Homo sapiens: one gene and its partner. The protein of the gene in region 1 interacts with the protein of each later gene in a pairwise test. Each region holds a gene or a part of one and is shown on either strand. Other genes may lie near its edges.

Region 1 (3,811 bases):
CTGGACTCACCCCACCCTCAGGGTCAGGGCCCCTGGACTCACCCCACCCTCAGGGTCTGGGTTCCCCAGACTCACCCTACCTTCAGGGTCAGGGCGCCTGGACTCACCCCACCCGCAGGGTCAGGGCCCCCGGACTCCCCCCACCCTCAGGTGGATGGCACCCAGGAACGCCTGGTTCCCCCCTGCTGCGTTGCATGGGGTCTCCTCAGTTAGGAGGTCCTGGGCCCAGGGCAAGTCAGGTCCTGGGAGGTTGGGGGCTGGTCACCCTGCATGGCCCGGATGGGAGCCCTGTGCTTGGAATTTGGCTCAGCTAGGCTCCCTGGTCAGCGTATGGCCGGGTCCACATGTAGGAGCCACGGCCTAGAGAGGCCTAAACCCTCACCCGAGCCAGAGGCCACAGGGCTGGAGAGGCCGCAGCACGGGTGTGGTTTCCACGGGAGGCTCCAGGCCCGTCTCTGCTCAGCAGGGTGTGCCAGGCCCGAGGGAGCACCCTGGACAGCCTGAGGACAGCCCCGAGGCTGAGGCCTCCACCCTGGATGTGTTCACGGAGAGGCTGCCGCCCAGCGGGAGGATCACCAAGACAGAGTCCCTTGTCATCCCCTCCACCAGGTGATGGGGGCTGCACGGCGGGGCGGGGCGGTGATGCACCTGTCGGGGGAGGGGCCGTCACGGGCATCAGTCGGGGTGGGTGCGTGTCAGTCCATCCTGATGAGCTCCCTCGGGTGTAGACAGCAGATTCAGGGCCTCGTCCTTCTTAAAAAGGAGAAGCAAACCCCCTGGCCCGGCATTGGGTGTCAAGCCTGCAGCCCCAGATTCCACCCTACCTGTTTGAGGGCAGGGTCAGGCGGGTCTGCCCTCCAGCAGGTGCCCCCACATCCCCCTGAGTAGCCCCTGCCTCAGCCAAAAGACACACATACACCAGCTTGATTCTTCCAGGATTTCAATTTCATGTTTCTGTGATATTTGGGACTTTTTCCAAAGCAGCGAGTCTGGGCACTGGTTTTTACCTTGTGGTGGCACGCAGGTGCCTGTGTCCGCGCTTTGGAGCCAGGTCGCCCTGGCAGCCTCAGTGCCCTGCACTGGCCTGCACCTGGCTCTGCCCAGCTCTTGGCCCGGGCAGGGAGGGTGAGCTCAGTCCTCACGGTGGCTCCAAGCCTCCTGGCCTGGCTCGAAGTCTCACAGGCAGAGCTGTGTGGGGTCCCATCGGAGGCACGGCCTCACTTGTACTCAGCTGCTGCTGTGGCCCTCCCAGGGCTGGTGACCTCTCTGTGCAGCCCATGTTCCCACTGCCCATCAGTCAGCCCTGTGCTCACCCTTCCCTGTCCCCACCACAATGTGTAGGCCACTGCAGGCCTGCCCCTGCCTCTGCCCCTGTTCCTGTTCCTGCTGCCACAGCCACTTAGCCTGTCCTGGTCCCCAATAGGTCCGAGGGGAAGCAGGCTGGCCGACGGGGCCGGAGCACATCCTTGAAGGAGCGGCAGGCAGCACGGCCCCAGAATGAGCGGGCCAACAGCCTGGACAACGAGCGCTGCCCGGACGCCCGGAGCCAGCTACAGGTGCAGCTGCAGGTGGGGGTGGAGGGCGTGGCACGCCCAGGAGGCAGGGCTCGTGGTCACCCTGGCACCAACCAGAGCAGGGCAAAAAGAGAAGCACAGGGGGCCAAGGGTGCTGGGCCACAGAGCATGCCTGGGCTTTGGAGGGCTCCTGCTACACAGCAGGGCGGGCGGGCCATGGGTTGGTTTGTCAGGAAGACCATGTGGACCCCAGGGCAAGTTCTAGTCCTTCTGCTGCCCTCCCTGGTCCAGGGCAGCCTCATTGCTTGGCTGATTTAGCCCAGGGCAGTTCTCCAAGCTGGCCAGCTCTCTTCCTGCCACCGAGCCTCTGTGGCTGCAGGGGGAGCAGGGGCACTGCAGGCACCAGGGCTGGCGTGGTGGGGATGGGCGCTGTGCTTCTCTTCTGGGTGTGGACAGGGCTCTGTGCCTCCAGATCCCCAGGAAGACTGTGTATGACCAGCTCAACCACATCCTCATCTCCGATGACCAGCTTCCCGAAAACATCATCCTTGTCAACACCTCGGACTGGCAGGGGCAGGTAGAGGGGCAGTCTCTTGGAGTGGAGGGTCAGGGTGTAGGACAGAGGAGAGTGGGTTCCTGAAGCTGCCCCCTACCCGGCACACCTGGGTGCTGGAGCTGCTGGCTGTGGTTTGCCTGGACGTGCCTGGGGTCTCTGGAGCCCCTGAGAGCTTTGGTGAGGGTCAGGTGCTGGGGGTGGCCTGGGCGGCTGTGCCGAAGTCAGCGTCTGCCTGTCTTCTGCCAGTTCCTCTCCGACGTCCTGCAGAGGCACACGCTCCCCGTGGTGTGCACGTGCTCTCCTGCGGACGTCCAGGCGGCCTTCAGCACCATCGTCTCACGGATACAGAGATAGTGAGTTGGGCTCCACCCTGTACTCACCACCCAAGTACCCCTCGGGGTCCCTGCACCCCCACCTCTGCCCATTGCTCCGGGGCTAGGTGCGTCCTGGACCTGGGGCTGTGGCTGGTGTCCACAGAGGCTGACCCATGCGCTCTTCGCAGCCTGGCCTCCCCTCAGTTGTGGGCGGGAGCAGCAGCCTGGTGGGTGTCCTGCCACACTGGAGTGGTGGCCTCCTGGCCTGTCCTTGGAAGCCTGGGCTGAGGCCATGACTGTGTGGTCCCTCAGCCTGGGCACGTTTGGGCATGTGGGGGTCCTGGGCTTGGGCAGCTCCAGGGCAGTTGTGGCATGAGCGGCCACAGGCACGGAGCCCCCTGGGCTCACACTGGCATCCTTGGATGGAGGACGGCTCCCCTGAGGCGTCTGTCCCCTCTCCGTCCCACCTGCCTCTGGATTGCAGCTGCAACTGCAATTCCCAGCCCCCGACCCCCGTGAAGATCGCCGTGGCGGGAGCGCAGCATTACCTCAGTGCCATCCTGCGGCTCTTTGTGGAGCAGCTGTCCCACAAGACACCCGACTGGCTCGGCTACATGCGCTTCCTGGTCATCCCACTGGGTGAGCACCACGCCGTCCACCTGGGCCTGGGCACAGATGCCACGGGCAGTGTGGCGTGGCATGGAGTGGTGTGGCGTGGCGTGGCGTGTTGTGTGGCGTGGCGTGGCGCGGTGTGTCGTGGTGTGGCGCGGTGTGGCATGGCGTGGTGTCCCTGCTTGCTACACATTTGTTGTTTTTAAATGTTTGTTTGATACAGTAACACTTTGTTAATTTTAATTATATGCAAGATAACTTGATTGCCCTAAAACAGCCATTTGGGTCAAGATAAAGCCATCGCCCTCTGAAGGGGCCTGAGCTGGGTGTCTCCTCCATCAGTCGCTGTGATAACTCTATGCCAGTTTCGATTTCCAAAGTCAGAAGTGCAAAGCAGGGCTCGTTATTAATCCTCTCAAATCGTCCAGGTCCTGTGTCGTCGAACTCCATTACTTCTTTAGGTCCATACGATGTGTCTTACCACGAAACAAACCCACCCAGCCTTAATCTGTTGACCAGCAGCAAGGCCTGGAGGCGACACCTCTCCCGTGTGGCCCTCACGATGCCGACGTCAGAGCCCTGAGCCAGCCGAGGCCTCTGCACGGTCACATGTGCCCTGCTGGGCCTTCCTCAGTGGCACTCAGGGCTCTGGGACCTCAGCTCAGGGCTGGAGCTCCTTCAGCGGGGCCACAGGCATCCACCAGGGAGGGGCAGTGGTGGCTTTCTCTTTCGGTGGCAGGAAAGTGGGCTTGTCTGGAAGGCAGCAGCACAGGCCTGGGGTCGGGTGGCCCAGCTTTTGTGCCGCGGTGGGAGCC
Region 2 (3,811 bases), on another chromosome or scaffold:
TCATCTTCATGTAAATTTGTTCATTTCCTTCCTTCCTTCCTTCCTTCCCTACTTCTCTCCCTTCCCTACTTCTCTCCCACTCTTTTTCTCTCTCTCTTTATTCTTTCCCTCCCTCCTTCCCTTCTGCCTTCCCTCCCTTCCTTTCTTCCTCCCTTCCTCTCTCCCTCCCTGCCTTCCTCCCTCCCTCCTTTTCTTCCTCCCTCCCTTCCTCCCTCCCTTCCTTCCTTCCTTCCTTCCTTCCTCCTTCCTTCCCTCCCTCCATTCTTTCCTTTCTTCCTTTCTTCTTTTCTTTTTCTTTGTCTCTCATGCTCTCTCTTTTTCTTTCCTTTTTGTTCTACTTTTTAAAAAAGACCACACTGCACTGAAATCTACATTACTTACCAAAACCTCTGGAGCTGCTTCTGTCTTGTAGGCAGGGAGCTCGTCCTGTAGCCCTTAGGTCCTCCCAGCCTCCTCCTCCTCTGATTTGTGGGTGCCACTGGGGCAGCTGCTGAGTCTCAGTGGTTCCTAGTCATCACCAAGTTCTGCCCACCTAGATGGTTTGCACCTGTCCTTACCAGAACCCTGCACTGTCTAGATGACTGAGGCTGCTTCTGCCTAACTGATCTGCTAGCTGTGTTCCGGGGGCACCCCAGGGTTAGAGGTAAATGGCACAGGCATTGAAATCTCCAACTGCTCTGACTCCAGGTTGGTGCACTTCAATGCCAAGTACTAACCACACAATAACAGGATGCCACCAAAACCTTGGTATGGGGCTGCTGCATCCTAATTAAAAAAAAGTAATAGATGTTATTTTTTAGAACAGTTCTAGGTTTACAGAAAAATGGAGTGGATAGTACAGAGAGTTCTCCTAGGCTCCCCTGTCCTCCAGCACACAGTTTCCCCTATTAGTATGTTGTATTAGTGTGGTCCATTCGTTACAATTGATGAACCACTATTGATACATCATTATCAACTAAAGTCCATAGTTTACACTAGAGTTCATTCTTTGAGTTTCACAGATTATGGGTTTTGGCAATTATGTAATGTCCTAAATCCCCAATACAGCATCATGCAAAATAGTTTCACTGCTGAAAATTCCCTGTACTTCACCATTTCGTGCCTCCTCCTCTCCTCCACCCCTGACAACCACTCATCGTTTTACTACTTCTATCTTTTTGACTTTCCAAGAATGTCCTAGAGTTGGAATTACAGTATGTAGGTTTCCAGACTGGCTTCTTTCTAGCATTATGTACTTTAAGTTCCTCCACGTCTTTTCATGACTTGACAGCTTGTTTTGTAAAATCACTGAATCAGATTTCATTGTATGGCTACAACACAGTTTGTTTATTCATTCACTTGGTGAAAGACGTCTTGGGTACTTCCAAGTTTTGACAATTATGATAAAATTGCTGCAAGTACTTATGTGCAGGATTTTGAATGAACTTAAGTTGTCCAAAGTGACTGTACACTTTTGATTTCCACTAGCTATGGAGAGTTCTGGTTGTTCCTCATCTTTGACAGCATTTGGTGTGTTCACCGTTTTGTGTTTTAGCCATTCTGATAGGTTTACAGTGATATCTCGTTGTTTTAATGTGCAATTCCCTCACAACAAATGATTTTGAGCATCTTTCTCATATGCTTATTTGCCATCTGTATATCTTATTAATGAGGTGTTCAGATGTTTCACTTTTTTTTTTTTTTTTTTTTTTTTGCTTTGTGTTGTTTAGTTCTCAGAATTCTTCATATATTTTGGACAGCAGTTTTTCCATCAGATTATTTTGTAAATATTTTCTACCAGTCTGTGACTTGCTTTTTCCATTCTCTTAACAGTGTCTTTCACAGAACAGAAGTTTTTAATTTTAATGAGGCTCAACTTAATTTTTTTTTCATTAGTAGATTGTGCTTTTGGTTTTGTATCTAAGAAGCCATCATTGAACCCAGGATCCCTCAGATTTTCTCCTATGTTATCTCCTAGGATTCTTATGGTTTTGCACCTTACATTTACGTGTAAGATTTATTTTATAAAGGGTATAACATGCATACCTGGATTTATTTATTTTTTTGCATGTGGTTGTCCAGCTGTTCTAGCACCACTAGTTGGAAAGGCTATCTTTGCTGTTTTAAATTGTCTCTAAACCTCCATGGAAGATCAGTGGACTGTATGTAGGCCTGCTTCTGGGCTCCGTATTCTTTTCCATGCATCTATATGTGTGTGTTTTCTCTTTTCACCAACTTCACACTATTTGGGTTACTGTAGCTTAATGTAAGTCCTGAAGTTGGTAGTGCCAAACCTCAGGGAGTTTTTCTGAACTTCATCATGAGAACCTGGTTGAGATCATTGTAGTAACACTTGGAAATGTGTGAGATTCCCCCTTAGTCTGGTCTTCAAGGAGTTTTTAATGTTCTAGCCAGGCTACCCTCAGCTTCTAGTAATCTGTCAGTACCATTTAAGTGCTCCTCCCACTTGCTGTCCCCAGTAGCTTCTCTTCCCTGTGAGCTGTGACTCCTTGTGTGTTAGCCTGTGTTTCTCATTTTTAAGGTGGCAGTTTTCCCTGTGACCTCAATTCTCTGATCCACCCTAGAAGGGTTGACTTTCAGTTTGTTCAGCTTTTTTCTAGCTGTGAGGACAAGTGATGACTGCCTAGCTCTTTCCATGTTGAAATAGAAACCCAAAAGTTTGTTTAAAGAATTACTTGTTATAAAAGTCCCCCATTGTTAATGTACAACTCAATGATGTAAGTTGATTTATCGAATTGTGCAGCCATCAGCAGAGTTCTACTTCAGCATATTTTGTCACTTCCCAAATTCCCTTGAACCTGTTTGTAGTCATTTCCTAATCCCTGGTCCCCATGACTGGGTCTGAATAGAATAAATATTTGGAAAGCAGACTTCATTATATTTATATTTTCCTGTGTTTGGGACTTTATATAGTGGACTATTGTGTTCGTTTTGTGACAAGTAGAGAAGAGATTGCATTCTAGGGATGGTTTTTGGGGGAACATAATAGTAGTCCTGTTTATGGCTCTCCTTGAATTGGTTCATCTGTGCTGGTGACTGGTATTTTTTACCAAACCTTGTCTGGTGAGCACAAGAAAAAGAATTTTTAAAAATCTACTATTAAAATTGAGATGATACATTTTCACATAATAATATTTGAAGTAGTGAACCGTCTTTATTTTATTTTATCTTTTTTTTTGGAGATGGAGTTATTTCTCTTTTCCTTGGGCTCGAATGCAACGGCGCCATCTCAGCTCACTGCAACCTCCACCTCCTGAGTTCAAGTGATTCTCCTGCCTCAGCCTCCTGAATAGCTGGGATTACAGGCGCCTGCTACCACACCTGGCTAATGTTTGTATTTTTGGTAGAGACAGGGATTCTTCATGTTGGCCAGGTTGGTCTCTAACTCTTGACCTCAAGTGATCCACCTGCCTTGGCCTCTCAAAGTGCTAGGATTACAGACATGAGCCACGGCCTGACCTGAACTGTGGGGAAAAGAAAGAGATATCAGATTGTTACTGTGTCTGTGTAGGAAGAAGTAGACATAAGAGACTCCATTTTGTTCTGTACTAAGAAAAATTCTTTTGCCTTGAGACGCTGTTAATCTGTAACCCTACCCCCAACCCTGTGCTCCCTAAGACATGGGCTGTGTCAACTCAGGGTTAAATGGATTAAGGGCTGTTCAGGGTGTGCTTTGTTAAACAAATGCTTGAAGGCAGCATGCTTGTTAAGAGTCATCACCACTCCCTAATCTCAAGTGCCCAGAGACACACTACACTGCGGAAGACTGCAGGGACCTCTGCCTAGGAAAGCCAGGTATTGTCCAAGGTTT

What was found.
Region 2: the proteins of PACS2 (region 1) and NBPF15 interact in a two-hybrid assay, tested with the Homo sapiens proteins (one large-scale study listed by IntAct).

The regions. Positions count from the first base shown.
Region 1 is NC_000014.9:105,380,491-105,384,301, forward strand, and holds part of PACS2 (phosphofurin acidic cluster sorting protein 2), read left to right. Parts: intron 1-463; coding exon of another isoform or gene 464-466; coding exon 467-609; intron 610-1,423; coding exon 1,424-1,568; intron 1,569-1,986; coding exon 1,987-2,091; intron 2,092-2,316; coding exon 2,317-2,423; intron 2,424-2,868; coding exon 2,869-3,023; intron 3,024-3,811. UniProt on the Homo sapiens protein: Multifunctional sorting protein that controls the endoplasmic reticulum (ER)-mitochondria communication, including the apposition of mitochondria with the ER and ER homeostasis.
Region 2 is NC_000001.11:144,451,521-144,455,331, reverse strand, and holds part of NBPF15 (NBPF family member NBPF15), read left to right. Parts: intron 1-3,182; exon of another isoform or gene 3,183-3,373; intron 3,374-3,811.